Regions from separate parts of the Homo sapiens genome. Here region 1 is linked to region 2. Evidence: fine-mapped expression QTL. Tissue or cell type: whole blood. Region 2 holds a variant in brackets; the other region holds the start of a gene. All regions are shown on one strand. Distances are between the middles of the regions. Region 1 holds the start of CALCRL (calcitonin receptor like receptor). Region 2 overlaps TFPI (tissue factor pathway inhibitor).

Region 1 (5,402 bases), 23 kb before region 2:
AAATAAATTTTGTTTAGTGAATAAGTTTTTGATCCTTTAAAGATTATTATATTTTTTCTATAAAGATCTAGAACAATCTTTTAAAATTAAGTTACTATCAAACTTTTGCCATGTAGATAAAATTGGTAGCAAAATATTTTTACAATGTTTCCAAATATGATCTAGTTAGAAATATATAATGATGCTATTAACTGAAATTCAGTTAGTGTTTATGTGTTTATCAAATACTTTGTCCACATTAATCTGTAAAGCAAACAAGGTAATCATTTTACCTTTATATTATTTTCAATTTTTTATGAAATTTTATTTCTGTTATGCATGAAAAAATAGTATAATATGTGCAGGTGAACATAAATATTCTTACAAATATGCTAAGTATTGTCTTCATTTAAAATTCATTACATGTTCGGAGTCACCAGTGAGAAAACCATATGAATCTTGCCCATTCATTTAAAATAATTTTTAAAATTACAGACCCAGTATTATTTTAAACAATGTTTTTGTTATTCCAATTTTTCAAAGTGAATGAACAGTTTCATATATTATAAAAATCTACATATTTTAACTTTTAGTATAATGCTTTGGTATGTAAGATAGAAAAAAAATCTTGTAACAATAATCAAAAACATTATCTCTTTAAGAAATAGAATATTTCAGGTAAAACATATTTCAGCTCACATTATTCACATACTATTTCAATTCTATGTTTCATTTTACATATTTAGCATTGACTGTAGGCTCAATGCATTGATTTTATGATGCTACAAGGAAACATCTTCTAGCAAAGTAAATTCATTTCTTTATGGCTAAAAGCATGCATTGATATTCTGATATTTTCTTATCATTAAAGAAAGCACATTTTGAATACAATAATATGAATTTTTATTTCAAACTTCCAGTTATGTCCTCAAATATTTCCTTTGGCTAATGACCTTCAATGTTCATCGCCTAGTGTTTTTCAAAAGTATTTTTGGAAAACAAAGATTATAAACCATACTGTTAGTAAACTCATAAAAATTTAATCAAATTATACAAGAAAATTATGGGTTTGGGACTAGCAATTAAACAAAAATTAAGGAAGTTTGGAGAGTTTCTCATTATAAAATATGATCATAATATAATACCTCCTAAGAAAATAATCTGAATTAAAAATAATGTTGTTTTAATTTTTGTTACTAACCCACGTCATTGGGTTAGTAAATGTGTTGTTTCCACTTTCTCCCCCATTTATATAATGGCTAAAGTCACATTCTAAAAACACTTTTCCCATTTCTACACATGTGTCAGGGAACTCAGTACAACTGAAGATTGAAAAGAGAGAGAAATCAGCCATGATACTCTTAAAGAATCACAAATCTAAGAATTAATTTAAATTTTCATTATATTGAGGAATTTGTGGAAAAATTGAGTTGTAAATTACTGAGGAGTTACTCAGGATGTTTGTAGTCTATTATTAATGTGCCAGATATAAGTGATTAAGTACAGGATGCTTCCAATGCAGGACATCTTGGAAAGTATAATTGCATTTAGGTAAGAAAATATATAACTTAAAAATCATATCTATCAACATCATTTAAAATTTGACATCAAACTTTCTCCAGCAACAAATTTGTGATATATCTACACAAACAATTTATTAAGCAGACATTAGTTTCTTAAATTGTTCAGGACAGTCTGTACTATCGGAATGAGCATTAACAGATGTTTTATCCAACATTTCAGTAAGTTCCATCCTGGAAATTCTTTTTTAATAAATACTTTAATTTCTTTGTTTAATCGTCTAATATACTTCTTTGGGAAAGCTGTCACGTTTCTTTATCCACAGATATCGTGGTATCACACCCCCCTCCAAAAGCTTGCAGAGGGGAACCAGTCAAGTTGAAGTATTCTCTTAAAGATTTCAAAATTAAGAATTGTTTTAAAAATCTACATTTCCTAAACTCTAGGTTTTTTTTTTTCTTTGTAGCCGACACCATGATCCAAATAAAGAGCAAACAGTTCAGGGTTAGCAGAAGAGAGATTTAAACACATCTGGCAACAATGAACACAAAAATTAGTTCAGTAGTTACAGATATATGTGTAAATAAAGGTGAAAGGCAAATAAAAGCAAATGTAATAAATACAAAGTGATTACTTTTCAAAACTCTGCATTATGATCAACCACAGAGTAAGTGAGACTCCGAGACCCATTAAGTAGTTATTCTTTCACCTCTTTCTTACAGCTGATAACATGGAAAGTTTAAAGACCCTTCCGGGGGGAGAAATGTTTTCCAGTTGTCAAGATTCAAGCTTAGCTAATATTAGAGCTAATTTTAAAAGACATTGTTCTGTGATTAAGGTATTTGTTCAGAAATATGTCTTTTAATCCATTTAGATTTTTAATACTTGCTAAATTTATTTTCTAGAATACCATGGTAAACAATATTATCTAGTAGTATTAGATTTTGTATTCATGTTGGGGTAGTAGGCTGTATTTTCTCTAGCATGTGAAATAAGTGAGACTATGTTTCAACATTATTTCAGTGCTATCTACTAAATTCTATAATAGAAACATTGCCAAACTATATGAGAATACTACTTAGAATAAATATATTTATTTTGAATGTGCACTTACCCAGTCCAGCTCTTAAGGAAATTCTTTGTGAAATATTCTCAGGATGGAACTTTACTTTCTGAGATTCCGCAGAAGAGATTTACCCACAAGCAAGGTGGGAAAGAGTGAAAGCTTTGCAATGTGATCCTGCAATTAGGATGAGATTCAGTTAGCAGAGCTTGATGGTCCTAAAGCAGGAGGTGACACTCTCTGCTGGAGAGAGAGAGGTTGTTCTGAGTAGATTGTAAGTGTTGTCAGATTGTAAGTGATCAGCAGCAGAAGGGAAACATCAGAGCTTCCTGTTACATCACTCTGACCCCGCCTGCAGTTAGTGTTAGGTTACTTTCTTTCTCAAATAGCATACCCCAGGAAAGCAGCACTCCTTTCTTATTGTGAGACAAGAGCAAGAAGCAGCCTGAACAGAGAGAGATCATAGGCTGTGTGAATACATTGTTACCAGTAAAAAGCTGGCTGGCTTTCACCTTGACTGAGTTCTGTTAGAACTTGCCAAACAAGCTACTTGTGATTTGAAGGAAATCTGAATATAGTATTCTGCTCAAAGAATCAAAGGAGTTAGGCGTGTGTGTGTGTGTGTGTGTGTGTGTGTGTGTGTGTGTGTTGAATTATAGCTTACAAAGTATCCAGGAAAAAAAATCTAACAAATCTGTGTTCATAGCACAACACAGAAAAAAAAATTAACTGTATTCATCATAACTGGTTTTGTGATTTGGCTCTTCTTAATTTGGAGCTCTGCTAATTGGGTGCTGTTCCTCCATCAGTTCCTAAGTGCAGTTCCTAATCAGTTAATTAGATCAAGAAACTTTATCCTGCAGTTTTTAAATCTTTTATTTTTTCCTTTACCTTCTTCATAAGAACATGAGTGTATGTGTTATAAATTCAGGTTGTGTATGTGTGTGTATAGAGTGTTTCTTTTATAATATATAAGTATATATATTTGACAAAATAGCCTTTTGAATAATTCATAATTTTAAAATTATTGCACACATTTAAAAATATTTGGTATAATTATGTTATTTATAATATAAAATAATTTATACCACAATATTTGTAAGTCAATATAATCTTAAAGAAAATATAGATGTTGTAAACATAATATTATAAAATAATATAAATACAAAGGATACTTTATTTCTTAGACAAAATTTCATCTCAAAGCATAGTTTTTCCTGAATATGTTTAATACATCATTGGATATGATCAGGGGAAAATGTAAATTTAAAATGCTTTTATCATTTTTATAATTTGGTAAATGTTCGATATGAAGCAATAATTATAATCCCTATAACCTAAACAGCACTAAAAGTCACTTAATTTATCAGGGCATAAATTTTCTCATCTATAAACTAGAAGAGATAGATTTTATGTCTAAGGCTTTGAATCGACAAATTTCATAACATTTTGAAATAGATAAGATACGGTGAGGATCATTCAACTCTTAGTAAATTGTTAGTGCAATTCCAGGATAAAATGAGGTGCCATACACCTTGTAGGCAGACAAAGGAGGTAAAGGCAAAATAAATTCAGGAATATCATGTTTTTAAAGCAGGGTGCTCATGTTGACATTTTTATTGTCTGAATTAGTGGAAGAAAATGTTTATACAATCTTTGATTTTAAGACCAGTGAGATCAATATTGATTACAAAATACAGACATATAAAAAATAGATATACTTTCATCTCTATAATTATGGTTAATAGAAAAGACTTGTAAGAAACTGAGTTACACTGGTGAACCGGTTCTGATACTGTCTGGTGTGATCTTGACAAAGCTTTTTAGGCTTCATGTTCCCATCTTGAAATTCAGAGAAAAACAAATACTAGATTTAATATGAAAGTAATAATGGGTCATGTCTTCTCATCTTCCATGCTAAGTGTAATATATGAATCCTATAAAGAGATTAATATATAGTTTTTGAATTTAATTAAATCATGGAAAACTAAAACTTTTCCCAATATGTTTATAAAAGCATTGATATTTTCGTCTTTCCAAAGATTCATTTTTCTTTCTTTCCTTCCTTCCTTCCTTCCTTCTTTCTTTCTTGATGGAGTTTTTGCTCTTGTTGCACAGGCTGGAGTGCAATGACGCAATCTCAGCTCACTGCAACCTCCACCTCCCGGGTTCAAGCAATTCTCCTGCCTCAACCTCCCAAGTAGCTGGGATTACAGGCGCCCGCCACCACACCCAGCTAACATTTTGTATTTTTTTGTAGAGACAGGGTTTCACTATGTTGGCCAGACTGGTCTGAAACTCCTGACCTAAGGTGACCCGCCCACCTTGGTCTCCCAAAGTGCTGGGATTACAGACATGAGCCCCTGCGCCTGGTGAGATTCATTGATTTCATTTGCCCAATACTAGTAAGGTCTACTGAAGGAAAAAAATTCATGTTTTGAGCTCATGTCATAAGACCCTTAATCCAATGCTCTTTCTCTTCTACTCTCTATCAAGTGCTATACTTTATGGGGTGTCTAGTAGAAGTTGTATCATTTATATTTAAGTTGACGTACACATGGGCCCATGGCTGTAGTCCATGAAGACTCCTTGATAAATTTTATTAATATCATCTTTAATTCTTATTTAGACATAACAGGAAAATTGCATCCTAGTAATCCTCAAGAGCTGCCATTTTATAAACTTCAGAAAAAATAAATGGTACAAGGACTTCCAGGAAGGCATTCAGGGTATTCTAAGTTATGTAGGAGCAAGTGATAAGATAGATCATAAAAACTTCTCTAATACCTACTGAAACATGAAGGCAAATGTTTGGAAAACTGTAGCAGAGCTAAATGAA
Region 2 (5,402 bases):
AAATTTCTTACAGACACACACACACACACACACACACACACACACATCACACATATATATTAATTTACATATCATTTGTTCACAAATATTTGGCTTTAAAAAATTCTAATGAGCAAAGTTTTTATTTGTGATGTAACAAAAACACTGAAGCTGAGGAAGAGTTACTTCTCTTGACTAAGCACATGCTGACTGATGTAATACAAGCACAGTTTAAAGTGGAGGAATTCAGGTATGGCAAGTTTTAAGTTTCAAGGAATGAGTCCAGATGAGTTGTTTGTCTTGGTAGCATTTTTTTTCTCATATTTGAAGCTTAGTTCTAGATGAGTTAAATGTTTTTGCAAAGGAAGCAAATTGATTTGGATCAGACAGATAAGCTGGTTTGTCAATGGGATCAATCAATGGTTTTCAAAAACAGAAGAGAAAAATACAATTAGGGTAATAAAAGGAGCACTCATTTGCCAAATCAAAAGAGAAATTAGTTTCAGCTGAATGTTAGTTTTTAGCTCTCTGGGAATTACTGTCAGTGAGGGGCACCGAGTACTCTTCGGTAGCACAGCTAAACTGCTTGATGTTAATAAACCAGTACTACAGGTAAGTTGTATGGCAAGGAATCAATACAAGAAAACTTTAATGGCTTTGTCAAATGGTGAGATGTGATACAAGCAAATACAGAGGAGGAAGATTTGCTAAATGTCCAATATTAGCAGAAAATAGAACTTTGAGGAATCCAGTAGTTAATGAAGGTGAATAGATTGTGCTTTAAGCAAGAAGCAGTCTTTTGGCAAATAAACCCCAGATGAACAGACTGTAAAAGAAAAGAAATAAAACAAAGTGAGAAAAAAATGAAAAAAAATCTCAAATTGATATAAACATTTTTTACCACCTCCTGCCTTCTAGATATTTAAATAAGGACTAGAGTGTCTTGATATAGTAACTCAGGTAATAAAAAATATTCTGGGAAATATGAGAGGGAATGAATACTGTGAGAATAATTTATGAGAAGAAATTTGAGACAGGTGATATTTTTGTGCCAAACTATATCAATAAGATATCAGAACTATAATCAAATAAAGAGTATTTAGTTTTACTTAGGTCTTTGACTAGGTATATATGCAGTGATTTTAAGAAGACCTTCTAGGATTTGTAAAATGAAAACATCGTTTTAAATCATATGTAGCCCTTTATGTTTTACCTTCTCCTATGTGGGGATTATAGTGCGTGATTTTTAAAATAATTTTTATTGTGTATATGTGAGGTTTACAAAATGATGTTATGGGATACATATAGATAGTAAAATAGTTGCTGTAGTGAAGCAGATTAACATACCCATCTTCTCACAGTTACATTTTTGTGTGTGTGACAAGGGTAGCTAAAATCTACTTATATAACAGAAATCCCTAACACAATACTGTTTTACTAACTGTCATCTTCATGTTGTACATTAGATCTCTAGGCTTATTTATCCTACATGCCTGTATTTTGTATCCTTTGACATGATGATATGCCATCATAAATCAAAGTTGAATGGTGAGAATGTGTGCTAGACATTCTAGAAAATGTTGACATTTCCTGTCACTAAGAATCATTTATATTAGAGGAATTTTCTAGCAGTCTAGGAGAGTTATATTGTAATTGATTTGTACTATTGTACACACTTTTCCAATGTGTGGGATGTGTATTATCATCATCCTTGCACAGTGTAGAATATAAAATGATTATTAATTGCCACCACTTTGATCTCATGAGCTTCCAGTTATCACCTATGTTCAGAAACAAAAGAGATGCACTAGATGCAATTAACCTAATTTGAGAAACAGAGAAAACAGGAAATTACTATCGCTTTTTTTCCTGTTTAAACACCCACAGTAACTTCGAAATAGATGTGTATGATAAAATGATATATGACTTATACATCAATTTCACTTTAGCATTTTGTATGTAAGATATATCTGCCCACAGTAAGTTGCAGATAATATGTGTGAATGTGGTTGTAAGTTGTATCCTTCTTTGCAAATGTTAGTTGTTACGTCTAAATAGCAATGCCAGACATCAAGCCCCCTTATTCCAGAACAGAGAAAATTTTCTGATGACAGGGAGCAAACTTCTTCTCTTTTCCCACATACAACCTATAGTAAACATGGCCCAATCATAAAATCAAGGTTATTTCAAAATGGGAAAAAGCTAGGCTAGTACATATGGGGCTACAGTCCCTAGATTGGACGTATGAGAAGAGGAGCCTCTGTTATCATAGACCAAGAACAGCAGGTGAATCC[T/C]AGAACCATTTGGGCCTTTCCATTGAAGCTGAAACCATGGAAGATACACCACAGATGTGGTGGAGAGACATATGCTAGCTTCAGTCTTCCTTTGACTATCCAGTCATCCAACAAGGCCTGCCATTTACCAAATCCTTTCAGAAGCCAGAGGAGAAAGTTCCCCATAAAACCACATGAGCAGGGGATTGGTTTGAGAGCAAACAGACAGTTGACCAGCATAGATGCCAGCAGAGAAAACTTCACTAAATTATCCAAGGCATCAGATTGCCTCTACTGACACTCTTTATGACTTCTGAATCAGAGGGTGTCTGGCATGCTGCTTCTGACAGCCTGGGATTTGGTATGCAGATGCACCTATAATCAGATACTTGCTCCTACTTGTCCATGACTGATGCAATGTCAGTTGTTTATCTATCTTACTTTGCCCTGATTTCAACCACTGCTTACGCAGATCATTCAACACAACAGAGTTTTGACCCAGATCAACAGTGAGGTTCCTAACACTAGAAATGGCAATATTTCGATAGTGCATTAAAATGTGAAGTTAATCACTAAGGATATTGTATTATGTGTAATTAACTTTTAGAGGTTTTTAAAGATGCAATAAATTATTGTCAGTTAAGGAATCATTATAAGGCGGTTATTCTTCAGAACATAAATTTTACCTAATACGTAAACTAATTCATTTATCTTAAGATCATTTTAACTCTGAGCAGTAAGACTATCATTGGGTTACTATACCATAAATGACAGTAAAATTAAAGTAATGAAGCAAATGGTTTCTTAAGAACATTTTAGTTCCATTTGAATTTTTTTCACTTCTTGAAGAGAAAAACTTCATTGTTTCCAAATAGCAAATTTATTCTACATATAGATCAGCACTCATCTATTCAAAATCCAGAATTTGCTATCTACAATGAAAGAAAATATAAAGGTTTTGCGAAATGTAATTTTTTTAGTTGAGATTATAATTATTGACAGAAAGTTAAGATAGAATAAAAAGACACTAACCTGACTTTTGTTGTTTTTCCAAAGGGAATTTAATAATCAAATGCATTCTGTCTTGATTCTGCCATTAATAACCAGTTGTGTACCTTCTGTCTACAGGGTTTTTGATAGGTTTCAGAATTCAGGGTACACTTTTTTTTTTAAATCAGGAACTATCATGATCTAGTGTGACTGCTGAACTGTAAGATGGTGCTCTAAACTCAGTTTTACAGGTAAAGTTGTTAATGTAAATTTGCTTTGAGATTTGTACAGTAAACTTTGAATCATATATTCACTTTGAATCTTTACTGTGGTATCTTTTTTATGATTCCCATTTGGCTTGCCTACTTAGGCTTTTGTTTTACTAAACAAACTAGGTTTTAAGAAATATCTTACAACTTGTTAAGTACATTTATTTTATTCTTCTAAGACTTTTTAGGGAATTGAATAACAAATCTTTTTTAAAGTTTTTTTCTCTATAATTTTGTAGTAAAGAGAAATATAAATTATTTACTGCAAATTATCTTTGTAAAACTTTGAAATAATATAAAAGTATAACAAATGTAAAACAAAATTTATCCATAATTTGATTCTTGCCCTTTAACCACTACCAATGGTTTACATATCTCCAAATTGTTTGCATATTCAAATGTATTAATATAATATTCTATATTACTATACTTGATAATATTTTGTGGCTGTGTCTCCACATTTTTATATAGGCCTCACTCTTTTTAATGTAGGTACAGTATTTCATTTTATGAGTTGACTACAGTATATTTAGTCAAATGGACATATGGATTATTATAATTTATTTTTTTCAGTACCAGACAGTGGCTCATGAACACCCATGTACACTGGTTCAGGTGCTTCCAGAGGACATACTTCTAAAATTAGAATTATGCAAAATCTATATTCAATTTATAACTTGGTAGATGTTGCTGAATTTTCCACTGAAACTTTTCACAAATTTATATGCCTACAACGACATTTAAAGTGCCTAAACCATTTAGCAAACCATGGACCTTACTGCTATGAATTTATCTCCTATTCAACACTTTTTTCTTCCCCATGCCAACAAAAGTAGAAGAGTACTATGTGGGACAAGAAACTGCTTATAGCTTGCCAAATGTTATATGAAATATCATTTATATGAAATCCAAATGTCATTAATTTGAAGATGCACTATTATTTTATGTACTATTCATAAACAAAGAAAGACACGGCCAGGCGTGGTGGCTCACACCTGTAATCCCAGCACTTTGGGAGGCCGAGGTGAGTGGATCACCTGAGGTCCAGAGTTTGAGACCAGCCTGACCAACTAGGTGAAACCCTGTCTCTACTAAGAATACAAAAATTAGCTGGGCGTGGTGGCACACGCATGTGGTCCCAGCTACTAGGGAGGCTGAGGCAGGAGAATCACTTGAACTCCGGAGGTGGAGGTTGCAAGTGAGCTGAGATTGAGCCACTGCACTTCAGCCTGGGTAACAGAACAAGACTCCATCTCGAAAAAAAAAGAAAGAAAAACATAATTACACTGTTATACACTATCAGTTATAAGTTTCATCATCATTAGAATCATGTTAAAAGGTAGAAAAACCTGCATGTTAGAATCAAGAAAATATAATAATTTATATTTTGTACCAACACACAATACATACATATATATACAAGCACATATAAATGAGAATAGAATTTATATATGTATCCATTGGGCAAATATTTAAGAGGACATGCAATCAGTTGGGAGGATGATTACTATAGAGATAGCTTTATTAGGTAGGGAGCTTAGAGATTTGCTAGGTTAAATTTTACAAAAAGATACTTTTATGCTGAGCTTATTCTATATTGTTCGGGCTCCTCCAGCAGCTACTTCCAGTCTTGAACTTTATTTACTTTGTGGTAAGTTGAAAAAAAATACAAGAAAATAGTAAATGAGATATGCTAGAATGCCAACAGTGATTGTTTCTGCATAATGTGGATATGGCCAGTTTTTCTTCTTTTATTTTCTTTTTTATTCAAATTCTTTGCAATCATAATGCTCAAGATATATGATAGAAATAATATGTTAGAGTGAGTCCAGTGTCCTGAGGTAATAGATAAAAGCCTAGAGATTAGAGATTGGAATCTGTTTCTGAGTAG

Evidence for each region.
Region 1: CALCRL starts here. The variant in region 2 is fine-mapped to the expression of CALCRL in whole blood (TOPMed, PIP above 0.99).

What each region holds. Positions count from the first base shown.
Region 1 is chr2:187,445,425-187,450,826 of GRCh38, forward strand. It overlaps CALCRL (calcitonin receptor like receptor), which reads right to left and starts at 2,828. Exons shown (of 15, transcript NM_005795.6): 1 at 2,615-2,828. The region is part of intron 2 of CALCRL-AS1 (CALCRL and TFPI antisense RNA 1); the gene reads left to right.
Region 2 is chr2:187,468,246-187,473,647 of GRCh38, forward strand. All of the region lies in intron 6 of TFPI (tissue factor pathway inhibitor), which reads right to left. All of the region lies in intron 2 of CALCRL-AS1 (CALCRL and TFPI antisense RNA 1), which reads left to right. Among named protein-coding and RNA genes, the nearest start is that of CALCRL, 23 kb to the left of the region's middle. The variant T/C (reference allele first, on the strand shown) is at 2,274.